Regions from separate parts of the Homo sapiens genome. Here region 1 is linked to region 2. Evidence: fine-mapped expression QTL. Tissue or cell type: whole blood. Region 2 holds a variant in brackets; the other region holds the start of a gene. All regions are shown on one strand. Distances are between the middles of the regions.

Region 1 (8,092 bases), 21 kb before region 2:
CTGGACTTTAGCCTGGGCCACACAGCAAGACTCCATCTCAAAAAAAAAAAAAAAAGAAAAGAAAAAAAAGAAAAACAAGAAAGAAATCTGCAGAGTTGGCTAGGAGTGGTGGCTCATTCCTGTAATCCCAGCACTTTGGGAGGCCAAGGCAGGCGGATCACATAAGGACGGGAGTTCGAGACCAGCATGACTAACACGGAGAAACCTCGCCTCTACTAAAAATACAAAATTAACGGGTGTGGTAGTGCATGCCCATAATCCCAGCTACTCAGGAGGCTGAGGCAGGAGAATTGCTTGAACTTGGGAGGCAGAGGTTGAGGTAAGCCGAGATCACACCATTGCACTCCAGCCTGGGCAACAAGAGCAAAACTGCATCTCAAAAAAAAAAAAAGGAAAAGAAAAGGAAATCCGCAGAGTTGTGACTAAAACTTCTGGGCTGCTGGTAATCATTTGTTTCTTAATCTGCATGCTACAAACTGATGTATTCAATTATGAAAATTTACTGATCTACACACTTGTAATTGTGTGTGTGTATTATCCTTGGACCAATTTTTTTTTTTAAAAGAGAGAAAAAAGAGGCCAGGCACAGTGGCTCACACCTGTAATCCCAGCACTTTGGGAGGCCGAGGCAGGCAGATCACAAGGTCAGGAGCTCGAGACCAGCCTGGCCAACAAAGTGAAACCCCATCTCTACTAAAAGTACAAAAAAAAAAAAAAATTTGCCAGGCGTGGTGGCGGGCGCCTGTAATCCTAGCTACTCGGGAGGCTGAGGCAGGAGAATCGCTTGAACCAGGGAGGCGGAGGTTGCAGCAAACCAAGATCACACCACTGCACACCAGCCCAGGCAACAGTGTGAGACTCTGTCTCAGAAAAAAAAAGAGAGAGAGAGAGAGAGAGAGAGAGAGAAAGAAGAAGGCCATTCTGGTGACTGTATGGAGGATAGGCTGTGGTTGGATAAGAGAAGCAGCAAGAACCAGGCAGAAGGCTGTTGCTATGGTCCAGTTGAGACATGATGGTGTCTCTGCCCAGGAGGGTGTGGTGTGGTTAGAAGTGATCAGATTTGAGATACAATTTGCAAGTATAGCCCCTGGGACCTGCAGATGGATTGAATGTGTGGAGTGAGGGAAAGAGAGGAGCTCAGGGTGACTCCTGGGTTTGGGGCTTGGCCGATGCTCTCCCTGAGCAGCCTGAGTTTCCCTCTGATTCATTTCTGGTACACCAGGCATAAAACAAGGTCCTTGTAACAAGTGACAGAGACAATCATGGTGCTGAGGGAAGAAGGGTGAAGGTGTATGGGGCCCACTCACCTTGATGACATTCCTTGTGCTGAAGCGGGTCCTGGTGACCTGGTGCCAACAGTGCCGGACCTGCCAGACCAGAAAGAGGCAGAGGACAAGCAGGTTGCCACAGCACTGAGGGTCCCTGCAGCTGTGATTCTGGGAGAGCAGGCCCTGCACTGGCTCCCACTCAGGGCCATGGAATGGCCCCACCACAGCACAGGCACCCAGCAGTGACAACAACATGGCAAAGCTTAGATCAGGCAGATGGTGTTGGGAGCTAGAGGGCAGGCCTGGCACATCTGATGCAGCCAGCTGCAGTAGGATAGCCGCCACCTCATAGCACCCCTGTCACTGAGGCCACCTCACAAAGGGGGCTGATGCCCCAGCCTCAACTCTGACCCTGGTGCCAGGCCTGGTTAGCATGCTCTTGGTGCAGGTAAGGACAGTATTGGGGAATTGTTCAAAAGTAATTAGGAGGAAGAACTTGTTTTAAACAAACCCATCCTCTGGAATGAAAAGATTAAGTTCCCTGAATGTGTGATGGGGTGATATAACCTGCGGTCTGCTTGATTTCTTTCTTCCTATGAAATACTTGGATCTGCCTGTCCTTCTATTATCAAACATTTAATGAACACTGTATTGAATACATGTATTCTTGTTTAACCACTCAACATGCCTTTCTCGTTGCTTGCAGTATCCTGATTTCCTGTGGGGGAATTACTTTTCCCATCTTAGGATCAGTGTTGGTGGGAAAATAAATGTTACCCTGAAGACTCTTTTACCCAAAAGTTCTATTCAAAATATTAAATATCTGAGCAGGCAGGGACGTCAGCCAATTATAATGAGCCAGGCCTTAACTGTTTAGTGGCTGGAATTTTTTTTTTTTTTTTTGAGACCGAGTTTCCACTCTTGTTGCCCAGGCTGGAGTGCAATGGCGCGATCTCGGCTCACTGCAACTTCCACCTCCCAAGTTCAAGCGATTCTCCTGCCTCAACCTCCCGAGTAGCTGGGATTACAGGCATGCGCCACCACGCCCGGCTAATTTTGTATTTTTAGTAGAGACGGGGGTTTCTCCATATTGGTCAGGCTGGTATCGAACTCCCAACCTCAGGTGATCCGCCCGCCTCAGCTTCCCAAAGTGCTGGGATTACAGGCGTGAGCCACCGCACCCGGCCCTCTTTTTTTTCTTCTTTTTTTTGAGACGGAGTCTCACTCTGTTGCCCAGGCTGGAGTGCAGTGTGCAGTGGTGCGATCTCGGCTCACTGCAAGCTCCGCCTCCGGGGTTCACGGCATTCTCCTGCCTCGGCCTCCCGAGTAGCTGGGACTACAGGCGCCCGCCACCATGCCCGGCTAATTTTTTGTATTTTTAGTAGAGACGGTTCACTGTGTTAGCCAGGATGGTCTCGATCTCCTGACCTAGTGATCCGCCTGCCTCAGCCTCCCAAAGTGCTGCGATTACAGGCGGGAGCCACCGCACCCGGCCGGCCTTTTTTTTTTTTTTTTTGAGAGTCTCGCTCTGTCGCCTCAGCTGGAGTGCTAGAGTGCAGTGGCATGATCTCAACTTACTGTAGCCTCCACCTCCGGGGTTCAAGCGATTCTCCTGCTTCAGCCTCCTAAGTAGCTGGGGTTACAGGCGCCCGCCACCACGCCTGGCTAATTTTTGTATTTTTTAGTAGGGACGAGGTTTCGCCATGTTGGCCAGGCTGGTCTCGAACTCCTGTCCTCAGGTGATGCGCCCGCCTCGGCCTCCCAAAGTGCCGGGATTACAGCCATAAGCCGCTGCGGCCGGCCGGTGGGTTACTTTTTGAATGTTTAATTCATTGTTTCTGCCAATAATTTGTACTAGGCAGCTCATAAGAACGCCAAAGTACGTTCCTTCTTCGACACAGGGCCAGTTTCCGCGCCAGTGCCCCCGTAGAGGGCGGGGCCCACTCGCTCGCGTAGCGTCACCTTCGCTTCCTGCCGCGCGGGGCCATTTCCGCTGCTGCTTCTGTGAGTTTTTCCGGTGCACGCGAGTGCTTCTGAAACGTCAGCTGCGCTCCCCTAGGAGTGCTGAGCCCGCGGAACCGCAGCCATGGTGAGTGCGTGCGCCGGCCGAGGGACCGGGAAGCGGGAGACTCAGGGTTGCGTTCACTCCCTAGCCTGTTAGATGGAGGCTTAGAGCCTGCGCCGTCTCATCCGCCGGCGTTGGGTCTTAACCGCCGGGCCCTTAGTTAGAACCCCAGCAGCGGCGGGGTCCCAGCAGCCTGGCCCGAGGTTAGAACTCAGGAAACCTTAGGATCCCCGCAGCTGTGTTGCTTTGCCGCACGGTCTGTTTGCTTGGCAAAAGGCCTGCAGCGAGCGGAGGGGGCATGGCCCAGCCTGGGAGAAAGAGACCAACCCACGTGGGAGAGGGCAAAAAGTTGGGTGAAGAAAACTTGGCTCCAACTTTTTTTTTTCCTTGTTTCTTTTCATACGAAATCTACGATGGCGTGGGACCCTGGGATTCGGATCAACCTCTCCTACCCACCCTACCTCACCCCACCCCCGTTGCTGGGGTTCAGGAGGAGATCTCCCATGGGTCTGCGCTTAGTGCCCGCCGCGAGTCACACGCGCCAGGGACCTAGAGGAGCCTTTGGCATTTGGGGGCTGTGGGGAACATGAAGTGAGCGCGACTCACGGCCTGGAGTGCAGGAAAGGCTTCTCCTGCAAGGCGGTGGCTTCAAAAACCAGAAGTCTGGTAGCACCACGTGCGGCGTCTCTAAACTCTTGGTCGTCTCTGACTTTTAAACATCTAGGGAAAGTTCTAAAACGTGTGTCCTGGCGTAGTAGTTTTGGTTGGCACTTGGTGAGGAGGGAAGAATTTGTAAAGCACTGTAACTTCTATAGTTAATCCTTCCAGTGGAGCTTGGATCCCGGCGGTAGCACTCCCCACAAACCTCCTCCCATGCATTTTGAAGCTTAGTACGTGGCTGAGCCTAGAACTTGAAGCTTCCAAACTCAGTGCTCGCTTTAACGCAGCTCCCTGAAACGTTTTGGAATCGGATGGTCTCAGGTTGAACTTTGCAGTTTTCCTCAACTGTAAAATGGGGATGACAGTGCATGAGGGTGTTGTGAGGATCAAATGAAATAAAGCATGGTAAACATCTAGTCCTGATGCTTGGTACAGAGTAAGCACGCAGTATTTGTTGTTCAATCAAAACCTTGCAAGTTTTGGCTGTCTGGTGTACAGCGAAACCAAACTGATCATGCTAGGTAGGGATTTAGGTTGGCTGGTGGTATGATATCATTCGTTAATTTATTTAACCCCTGAAGAAATTGAAAGGCAAATAAATACACCCTAAGCAAGTTTCAATTAGTGTTTATAAGCTAGTTTGGTTTTAAAATTGAGTTTAACTTTTTTGTTGACTAATAGTGAAACATTTAGGTATTTAATGATTGTTCAGATTCCTGAAGTCTTCCTCTTTTATGAATTTGATGTTTATTGAGATTTGAGAATCCTGATTTCCAGAGAATGGGTTGTTGGAAACAATGGCAATTTTTAAAGTTTTTTTAAATTGACATATCATAGTTGTACATACTTTGGGGGTTCCATGTAATATTTCTAAGTATATCTATTTTAAAACATGCAACAGGGCCAGGCGCGGTGGCTCATGCTTGTAATCCCAGCACTTTGGGAGGCTGAGGCGGGTGGATCATGGGGTCCGGAGTTTGAGACCAGCCTGGCCAACATAGTGAAACCCTGTTTCTACTAAAAATTCAAAAAAATTAGCCAGGCGTGGTGGTGGGCACCTGTAATCCCAGCTACTTGGGAGGCTGAGGCAAGGAGAATCGCTTGAACCTGGGAGGCGGGGGTTGCAGTGAGCCAAGATCACACCACTGCACTCCAGCCCGTGTGACAGTTTGAGACTCCGTCTCAAAAAAATAAATAAATAAAACTTGTGATAAATTATTAACCAAAATTTCCAGCTGGGCACGGTGGCTCACGCCTGTAATCCCAGCACTTTGGGAGGCTGAGGCGGGTGGATCATGAGGTCAGGAGTTCAAGACCAGCCTGACCAACATGGTGAAACCCCATCTCTACTAAAAATACAAAAATTAGCCAGGCGTGGTGGTGCGTGCCTGTAATCCCAGCTACTTAGGAGGCTGAGGCAGGAGAATCACTATAACCGGGGAGGCGGTGTTTGCAGTGAGCCGAGATCATGCCACTGCACTACAGCCTGGGTGACAAAGCAAGACTGTGTCAAAGAAAAAAAAAATCCCTACTGTAGTATCAAATAAAACATTTGTATGGCCGGACGTGGTAGCTCACACCTGTAATCCCAGCACTTTGGGAGGCCGAGGCGGGTGGATCACCTTAGGTCAGGAGTTCAACCTGGCCAACATGGTGAAACCCCCATCTCTACTAAAAATACAAAAATTAGCTGGGCGTGGTGGTGCATGCCTGTAGTCCCAGTTACTCGGGAGGCTGAGGCAGGAGAATTCCTTGAATATGGAAGGCAGAGGTTTCGGTGAGCCGAGATTGCGCCACTGCACTCCAGCCTGGGCGACAGAGGGAGATGCCGTCTCTTAAAAAAAAAAAAAAAAGATAAAAGAATAAACTCCAAATCAGTAGAGGGGAAAATAGTGCAAATGCAATGATAAATCCAGAGAAAGGAAAGAAAGAAAAAGAAACAGAACAAGTGGAACAAATAGAAGGCACAAAAGAAGGAAAATTTGAAACCATTATACCAATACTTAAATATGTAAAGGGACTGAGTGCTCCAGTTAAAAGACGGGATGTGGCCAAGCACTGTGGCTCAAGCCTGCAATCCCAGAAATTGGGAGGCTGAGGCGAGAGAATCTCTTTAGCCCAGGAATTGGAGACCACCCAGGGCAAAATAGTGAGATCCTGTCTCTACAAATTTTTTTTTTTTTTTTTTTGAGACAGAGTCTCGCTCTGTCACCCAGGCTGGGTGTGCAGTGGCACGATCTTGACTCACTGAAACCTCTGTCTCCTTGGTTCAAGCGATTCTCCTGTTTCAGCCTCCCGAGTAGCTGGGATTACAAGCATGTGCCACCATGCCCGGCTATTTTTTGTATTTTTTTAGTAGAGACGGGGTTTTGCCGTGTTGGTCAGGCTGGTCTCCAACTCCTGACCTCAAGTGATCTGCCTGCCTCAGCCTCCCAAAGAGGTGGGATTACAGGCGTGAGCCACCACACCCAGCCTAAACAATTTTTTTTTTAATTAGCCAGGAGTTGGCCGGGTGCAGTGGCTCATGCCTGTAAACCCAGCGCTTTGGGAGGCTGAGGTGGGCGGATCACAAGGTCAGGAGTTCAAGACCAGCCTGGCCAACATGGTGAAACCCCGTCTTTACTAATAATACAAAAATTAGCCGGGCATGGTGGCGCATGCCTGTAATCCCAGCTACTCAGGACGCTGAGGCAGGAGAATTGCTTGAACCTCGGAGGCAGAAGTTGCGGTGAGCCGAGATTGTGCCACTGCACTCCAGCCTGGGCAACAAGAGCAAAACTCCGTCTCAAAAAATAAAAAATAAAATAAAATAAAATTAGCCAGGAGTGGTGGCCCACACTTGTAGTTCCAGTTACTGAGGAGGCTGAGGCAGGAGGATCGCTTGAGCCCTGGAGGTCGAGGCTGCAGTGAGCTATTGTCATGCCACTGCACTCTGGTCTCAGTGATAGAGTGAGACCCTGTCTCAACAACAAAAAGGGTGTAATTCTTTTTTTTTTTTTTTTTGAGATGGAGTTTCACTCTTTCGCCCAGGCTGGAGTGAAGTGGCATCATCTCAACCTACTGCAATCTCCGCTTCCCGGGTTCAAGCCATTCTCCTGCCTCAACCTCCAAGTAGCTGGGATTACAGGTGCCTGCCACCACACCCAGATAATTTTTGTATTCTTAGTAGAGACGGGGGTTTCACCATGTCATCCAGGCTGGTCTTGAACTCCTGACCTCAAGAGAGCCACCCACCTTGGCCTCCCAAAGTGCTGGGATTATAGGTGTGAGCCACTGTGCCTGGACTGCCCCAGCTAAGTTTTTAAATATTTTTAGAGATGGGGGTCTCACTGTGTGGCCCAGGCTGGTCTCAAACTTCAGGCCTCAATCAGTCCCCAGCCTCAGTTTCCCAAGTTGGTGGGATTATAGGCCTGAGCCACTGCAGCCAGTTCAGAATACACTCTTCAAACATGGAACGTTTTTGAAAATTGGCCATAAAGCAAGCCCTGCAAATTTTAACATTGGTAATATTACATACCATTTTTGCCTAACCCAAAAGGAAATAAGTTAAAAATTAGTAACAAAGTAGTTTGAAATGAAAAATATAAACTATCAGAGAGATTTAAAAATTGTAGTAGGAATTCAAAAATAGAACAGAACAATAATGAAAATACCACATACCAGAGCATAAGTGACAAGGGCAGAGGGGGGAAGAAACAAATGAAAGGATATAATGAAAGTATTACTTGGAGCCTAAGATGCTAATGCTAGGGAGAAACGGGATAAAAAGGTAGAAAAAAACACTAGCACAAAATAACCCCAAAGAAAGTAGAAGGAAAGAAAAAAAACAAAAGGAGAAATTGCTGAAATAGAAAGTAGAGCATACTGCTGGGTCTTTTCCTTTCCGAAGCCCCTCTTTCTCACCAGAGAGAGCTGTTCTTTCTCTTTCTTTTGCCTATTAAACCTCTGCTCCCGGCCAGGCGCAGTGGCTCACACCTGTAATCCCAGCACTTTGGGAGGTCGAGGCAGGTAGATCACCTGAGGTCAGGAGTTCGAGACCAGCCTGGCCAACATGGCAAAACCCAGTCTCTACTAAAAAATACAAAAATTAGCCCGGTGT
Region 2 (8,096 bases):
TAACATTCTACTTTTTTTTTTTAACTTAAACATAACTAATGTCTGAGATTGCTTTCTTTTTTTTTTTTTTTTTTTTTTTTTTTTGAGACATAGTCTCTGTTGCCCAGGCTGGAGTGCAGTGGCATGATCTCAGCTCACTGCAACCTCCACCTCCCCGGTTCGAGCAATTTCTCTGCCTCAGCCTCCCAAGTAGGTAGGATTACAGAAGTGTGCCACCACGCCCAGCTAATTTTTGTATTTTTTAGTAGAGATGGGGTTTCACCACGTTGGCCAGACTGGTCTCAAACTTCTGACCTCAAGTGATCCGCCTGCTTTTGCCTCCCACAGTGCTGGGATTACAGGCGTGAGCCACTGGGCCCAGCCTGAGATTGCCTTCTGATTTTTGTTTCTAAACATTTTATTTTTGAGAGAGAATCCGTTGCTTTCATCAGGTCTCAAAGGTTCCCCTGACCCCAAACACAACTGGTTAGGAATTTCAGATTTTCAGTGTTTCCTGAAACTCTTTCCCAAGAGAACCTGCAATTAAATAGTTTTACATTTACAGTATTGACCTAAAGAGATTATTTATTTGTTGTATTTGAACGTTTTCATTATCTTTGATCTCAAACTGATGGATGGAAAGGCAGCTTGTTCTTGGAAATGAGTGTCCCCCATTCCCCTGGCATCAGGTTACTTTTTTTTTTTTTTTTTTTTTTTGAGACAGTCTTACTCTGTCACCCAGGCTGGAGTGCATTGGTGCAGACTCGGCTCACTGCAACCTCTGCCTCCCGGGTTCAAGAGATTCTCCTGCCTCAGCCTCCCGAGTAGCTAGGATTACAGGTGCATACCACCATGCCCGGCTAATTTTTGCATTTTTAGTACAGATGAGATTTCACCATGTTGTCAAGGCTGGTCTCAAACTCCTGGCCTCAGGTGATCTGCCCGCCTTGGTCCCCCAGAGTGCTGGGATTACAGGCATGAGCCACCATGTCTAGCCCAGGTTACATTTGGAAAAATCAAGTATGGCCTCTGGCTTGAGCTGATGTATCTACTTGGGGGTAGGGTCATGGGGATGGAAGATAACTATACTCTTGTGAAGGAAGGAAATAATTTAAAGTAGCAAGTCAATATTCACAATGACCTGTGGCAGCCAGCCTCCAAGATGGCTCCAGTGCTCCTCACCTGCGATTCACGCCCTCGTATAGTCTACCACACCAACTCAGAGTCTGGCAGAATCGATGTGACATTGCAGTTTCTGCCTTCATTTCTTCAGATAACTGGCTATAAGGGAAGTCAGCTGCCATGGACTTAAGGACATGGAGGTCCTAAGGCCTCTAGCCAACAGCTGGCATCACCTTTGCCAGCCATGGGAATGAGCCTCTGTTTCATTTGTACCTGTGGAATTTTTTTTTTTTTTTTTTTTGAGACGGAGTCTCGCTCTGTCACCCAGGCTGGAGTGCAGTGGCGCAATCTTGGCTCACTGCAAGCCCCGCCTCCCAGGTTCACGCCATTCTCCTGCCTCAGCCTCCCAAGTAGCTGGGACTACAGGCACCTGCCACCACGCCCGGCTAATTTTTTGTATTTTTTTTGTAGAGACGGGGTTTCACCATGTTAGCCAGAATGGTCTCGAACTCCTGACCTCGTGATCCGCCCGCCTCAGCCTCCCAAAGTGCTGAGATTACAGGCGTGAGCCATCGCGCCCGGCCTCCTGTGGGATTTTAATTAACAGATTGAGTGATGACACTAAGTCAATGCCATTGAAAGAATGTACGTTTCCTACGAGAAGGGGCATTCCACACAGCACAGGGCCATGGGAGAAACATCGCGCTTTGTTTACGAGTCAGAATTAGAGCAAGGGGAATCATAGGCCACATCCTTTATCAGAGTTTCCTCAGGAAAGGCAGGACAGAATAAACGGTTTAGGATTGATTGGCTAGTTTGAATCGTTCCAGTGGGCTTTGGGCTATGGGGTGGTCTCTAGTTGCCTGGCATCTGGTCCTGGGATGAGTTAGTACAGGAGGAATAATGCTTTGGTATGTGAAAGATAAAGGAGGTGACTGGCATGCATGAGAGGCATTCTCACAAATATGTGGTAACTGTCTCTATGAGTAAGCTAGCCCTGAGAGGAGCAGTTTATTCCTGGGTCTGGAAGGCCCCCCAAGATGTCAAAACATAAGACAGAGATAATTGGAAACATGCTCATTACGGCCTCCCAGCAAATAGATCCTCCAGCCTCACTCTAGCTTTCAGGTAGGAGAGGAATGCTTATTGTTTTAAGCCAATAGTTCCTGGGTGTAATTTGTTACACAGCAATAGATAACTAAGGTGGGAGGAGGGTGCGGGGTAGTGATGAAGGGATGGGGACGCCTTGTCAAACCACAGCAATAAAAATGGTCATGTTGGCTGGGCGCGGTGGCTCACACCTATAATCTGAGCACTTTGGGAGACCGAGGCAGGTGGATCACTTGAGGTTGGAGTTCGAGACCACCCTGACCAACATGGTGAAACCCTGTCTCTACTAAAAAAATACAAAATTAGCTAGGCATGGTGGCACACACCTGTAATTGCAGCTACTCGGGAGGCTGAGGCAGGAGAATTGCTTGAACCCAGGAGGCGGAGGTTGCAGTGAGCTGAGATCACGCCATTATTGCACTCCAGCCTGCGCAACAAGAGTGAAACTCCGTCTCAAAAACAAAAAAAAAAAAAAAAAAAGGTCATGTTTCCACCAGACGCGGTGGCTAATGCCTGTAATCCCACCCAGCACTTTGGGAAGCCAAGGCAGGTGGATCACCTGAGGTTAGGAGTTTGAGACCAGCCTGGCCAACATGGTGAAACCCCATCTCTACTAAATACAAAATTACTACTACTACTACTAAATACAAAATCTCTACTAAAATACAAAAATTAGCCGGGCGTGGTGGCTCACGCCTGTAATCCCAGTACTTTGGGAGGCCAAGGCGGGTGGATCACGAGGTCAGGAGTTCGAGACCAGCCTGGCCAACAAAGGGAAACTCCGTCTTTACTAAAAATACAAAAATTAGGCATGGTGGGGGGCACCTGTAATCCCAGCTACTTGGGAGGCTGAGGCGGGAGAATCACTTGAACCCAGGAGGCAGAGGTTGCAGTGAGTCGAGATCATGCCACTGCACTCCAGCCTGGGCAAGAGAGCAAGACTCAGTCTCAAAAAACAAAAACAAAAATTAGCTGGGCGTGGTGATGCCTGTAACCCAGCTACTCGGGAGGCTGAGGCAGGAGAATTGCTTGAACCCGGGAGACAGAGTTTGCAGTGAGCCAAGATTGTGCCACTGCACTCCAGCCTGGGCGACAGAGCGAGACTGAGTCTCAAAAAAAATAAAAATAAATAAAAATAAAAGGACCAGGTGCGGTGGCTCACGCCTTTGATCCCAGCACTTTGGGAGGCCAAGGCAGGCAGATCATGAGGTCCAGAGTTGGAGATCAGCCTGGCCAACATGGTGAAACCCCTTCTCTACTAGGAATACAAAAATTGGCTGGGCATGGTGGCACATGCCTGTAATCCCAGCTACGTAGGAGACTGAGGCAGGAGAATCACTTGAACCCGGGAGGTGGAGGTTGCAGTGAGCTGAGATGGTGCCACTGCACTCCAGCCTGGGCGACAGAGCAAGACTCCATCTCAGAAAAAAAAAAAAAAAGAAAGAAATGGTCATGTTTGTCTTCTGGATCTTTGTAGTCATAAATAAATAAATAAACAAACAAACAAATAAATAAATAAATGGTCATGCTAAAATTGCAGGGTAGCGAGGAACACTAGAAGTGCTGGCATGGCCCACGAGCCGCCTGAGTCCTCAGAAGATAGAAGTCCACGTAGGATTTGCTTCCATACATGATGCAGAGAAGGTTGCATCAGGGTCCTTACAGTCAGGGGCAGTGTGGCTTAAACAAGAAAGGCTGAATACATAGCTCCCGTTCCAGTAAAACCTGGGTGTGTTTCCTCTCCTAATACGGATGCTAATGAGGATGGAATTTCTGGATAGTCGGCAGGGAGAGGAAGTGGATGACTAATCTCCCTCAGAGCTCGTGGTCCTGCCCTGCCTTTCTTCTGTTTTTTTTGTTTACTTTTTTGTTTTGTTTTGTTTTGAGGTTGGAGTGCATTGGCGCGATCTCTGCTCACTGCAACTTCCGCCGCCCGGGTTCAAGCGATTTTCCTGCCTCACCCTCCCGAGTAGCTGGTATGATAGGCGCCTGCCACCACGCCCGGCTAATTTTTGTATTTTTGGTAGAGACGGGGTTTCACCGTGTTAGCCAGGATGGTCTCGAACTCCTGACCTCAGGTGATCACCCCCACCTCAGCTTCCCAAACTGCTAAGATTACAGGCGTGAGCCACCGCGCCCGGCCTCTTCTGGTTTTCAACAAGACATTAAAACAAGACATTACAGAAGGGGAAAGGCTGAGAGGTAAAAGGCTCATCTTCCCAAGTAAC[C/G]GCAGTTTTCGTTGAGTGTCATTCCAGACGTTCCCTCTGCACCTGGCCTAGAAGTAAACAGACATATGTGCATCCGTGTGTTTGTTTCAGTTTTGGCCAAACGGATTCGTGTTCTCGAGCTGCTGCGGCGGCCACAAGGAACCCGGATGCCGCTGAGCTTAGCCCGCCAGACTCTCCGGCTTATGGCTCCCAGGCCCAGGCACCCGGCCTGCCTCGTCCGTGGCGCGCATGCGCAGGCCCAGATCGGCGCTCCGCGCCGGCTGTGTCGCCACCTGGCGGATGGAAGCGCGATGGCCGCGGTAGAAGTCAAGCGCCAGAGGGCACTCCATGCGGATACCCAAATCTGAGGTTGCCCAAGTCCCTGATGTAACATGGCGCAGTATTTGCATATGAACTACGCACGGCCTCCCGGATACTTTAAATTATACTCTAGATAATTTACGATACCTAATAAAATGTAAATGCTATGTCAATAATTGTCATACTGTATTATTTATGGAATAATGACAATTTTGTTGTTGTTGAGACAGAGTCTCGCTCTGTCGCCCAGGCTGAAGTGCAGTGGCGTGATCTCGGCTCACTGCAACCTCCTTCTTCCGGGTTCAAGTGATTCTCCTGCCTCAGCCTCTCGAGTAGCTGGGATTACAGGTTCCCACCACCACACCCGGCTAATTTTTTTATTTTTAGTAGTAGAGATGGGGTTTCACCACGTTGGCCAGGCTGCTCTCGAACTCCTGACCTCAGGTGATCCGCCCTCCTCGGCCTCCCAAAGTGCTGGAATTACAGGCGTGAGCCACCGCGCCCGGCGGGCTAATGACAAAATTTAAAGTCTGGCCCGGCGCGGTGGCTCACACCTGTAATCCCAGCATTGTGGGAGGCCTGGCCGGGTGGATCACCTAAGGTCAGGAGTTTGAGAGCAGCCTGGCCAACATGGTGAAACCTCGTCTCTACTAAAAGTAAAAAATTAGCCAGGTGCGGTGTTGTGCGCCTGTAATCCCAGCTACTCGGGAGGCTGAGGCAGGAGAATCGCATGAACCCAGGAGGCAGATGTTGCAGGGAGCCAAGATCGCGCCACTGCACTCCAGCCTGGGCGACAAGAGCAAGAGTACAGACGCAGCCATCGATTTTTTCCCCAAGTTTTATTTATTTATTTATTTATTTATTTTGAGGCAGAGTCTCGCTCTGTTGCCCAGGCTGGAGTGCAGTGGCGCGATCTCGGCTCACTACAACCTCTGCTTCCCAGATTCAAGCGAGTCTCCTGCCTCAGCCTTCCGAGTAGCTGGGATTACAGGTGCACGCCATCATGCCCGGCTAATTTTTTGTATTTTTAGTAGAGATGGGGTTTCACCATGCTGGCCAGGCTGGTCTCGAACTCCTGACCTCGTTATCCGCCTGCCTGGGCCTCCTAGTGTTAGGATTTCAGGCGTGAGCCAGCACGCCTGGCCCCCAAATATTTTTGATCCATGTAGGTTGAATCCATCGATGTGGAGCCTGCGGATGCAGAGGGCCAACTGTATCTATTGAGTGCCATGTTCTTTTACGTATTTTCTCATTTTCACCATGTGACGTTATTATAAGAATGTGGAAGCTAAGGCTCAAAATGCCTCATAAACTGCCCAAGGTCACTTGTATATATGATGGCACTAAGATGTAAATTTGCTAAATCAGCCTCGTGAGCTTCCAAAGGCCTAACCAATTCCACTGGAACATGGTATTTCTTCTCTCCTGGGTGGGGGACTCAGCAGGCAGAGAAGGCATCATTGATTTACAGAGAAATATCACTCTGTTGCTGTTTATCACAGACCTCGGGTGATTTGTCTAACATTCACATACCTGCCTGGCTCTGGTAGGTGTTTGACCTCTGAACTCTCATTCTCTCCATTTTGGAAGTAGGAGGCAAAGGAGCGTAGGCTTGGGCATAGTGTGCACAGCAAAGCCAGCCTGGAGCTCACCCCAGGGCTGCTCTTCACTAGCTCCAGCATCCAGGGTCGGATACCAAGGGCTCAGTGGGGCTACTCCTTGCCCTCCTATTGCAGGTGACTGGCTGTGACTAGTGTAATTTCAATCTACCTTGGTAGATTAACCCCCTATAGAATCCAGTTTCCAAACTTGCTCCATTTAAGGGGAATGGTCCAATTTCTCAACAATTTCTAAGCATCTAATGGGAGAATTATCTTCCCCTCTTGCCCAGACACGTAAGGAAATACAAAAAAATACAGTATCTCCTTTCAAACAGAAACAAAAGCAATAACAGGTTAAAAAAAAAACCTATAAAGCTTAGAGCCAAGAATCCAAAGCTGAAAGGAGTAATTTGGCCCCTCCTACACTCTTCCTCATGAGGTGCTGCTCATTCTAGTCCTGAAGGACACAGGACCTGCAAACCCTTACTCACATCCTCAGAGGAGACCAACAATTCCAGATGCTCTCCTTCCTTCCCTCAGGCTAATTCTTCAAAAGCAGTGGCAGTAGAATGAGCAGGAAAGGGACAGGGAGGACAGAGCAGGGATGTAGAAGAAGAAAAGGTAAAAGACACTCCTGTCCTCTTCCCCTTCTTTAAATACTAGGACATTTTCTCATCTTGAATTTCCTACAGCTCCCCTGAAACACAAGAGGAGTAACTCTTCATTTCACTTATTCTGGAACCCAAATTCTCAGGGCAACAGAAAATGGGTATATTTTTGCATGACTTAATGTTGCATTAAGAGGAATGCAATGAGAAGGAGTTGCTGTTTACTCACGAAGCAAATGGCCCCAGAACTAAGTGTTACCTTCTTACTGCTTCAGAAATCTGATTTTTATACCTTAACATGACACATTTAAAGGAAAACAGGCTAGAGGACAGAGGATAAGGATAATATAATCCTGCTAGGGCTTCTTACTCCCAAAATGCCTTCGCCTGCCCTGACCCGTCACACTCTCACCCGCCCCTCTGATACTTGTTTTGTTTCCATTGTGGTGATGAGTGTTCCCAATGAAAGAGAAAATTAAGCTAAGTGATGGCTAGCAAGTTTTGGATGCAAGGCATACACACCTTTCTCCTTCACACAAAAGAACAGTATATAGTACAAACTTAGGGCTCTTTATTCAGGCAGTAAAGTAAGGAACAGCAAAGTGGGAGGGCTACACCATCACCATGGCAACAGAAAGCCTCAAAAACATAAAGTCCCTCGACTTATGTCGGGTAGACTCTTCCTAGCTCAGGAGAAACACATTTTAACTGGCTGAGGACAAGGCCAGGCAGCCTGGCCACACTGCGGAAGGGCAGCTGGACGCGCGGCCTCTGGTCAGTCCTGGAAGTGCTTGGTGAGGGCTTCCAGCAGCTCCTGCTTCTTCAGCCCACTCTTCAGCCCGTAAGCCCGGCAGGCCTCTTTCAGCATGGGCACAGTGAACTTGCCCAGCGTACCCTTGCTGATGTGGGTCTTCAGCTCCTCTTCTGAATACTCCACCTTGGGCCTTTTGCTTCCAGAACCTTCATTATCTGGGGGGAAAGGTCAGGAGAGAGTGACTGGAAATGCTACATACAAGTGGCATCCCAGCTACATGGCATGGGGGACCTCGTATAATCTGGGCTGCAATTAACCATAAAGCTGTGATGCCAGCCTAGGACACCATGGGGAAGACTTATCTCGATAAGGTAGCTTCATTTAAAGTGCAAAA

The links. PIP is the estimated chance that this variant, and not a neighbour inherited with it, causes the effect.
Region 1: it holds the start of SNU13, and the variant in region 2 is fine-mapped to the expression of SNU13 in whole blood (TOPMed, PIP above 0.99).

The regions. Positions count from the first base shown.
Region 1 is chr22:41,684,059-41,692,150 of GRCh38, reverse strand. SNU13 (small nuclear ribonucleoprotein 13) reads left to right here and starts at 3,284. Exons shown (of 3, transcript NM_001003796.2): 1 at 3,284-3,357. The coding sequence starts at 3,355. It also overlaps the pseudogene C22orf46P. RefSeq lists enhancers at 3,185-3,364, 3,915-4,084 and a silencer at 3,604-3,803.
Region 2 is chr22:41,663,443-41,671,538 of GRCh38, reverse strand. XRCC6 (X-ray repair cross complementing 6) reads right to left here. Exons shown (of 13, transcript NM_001469.5): 13 at 7,498-7,917. The coding sequence ends at 7,724. Among named protein-coding and RNA genes, the nearest start is that of SNU13, 21 kb to the left of the region's middle. The variant C/G (reference allele first, on the strand shown) is at 4,440.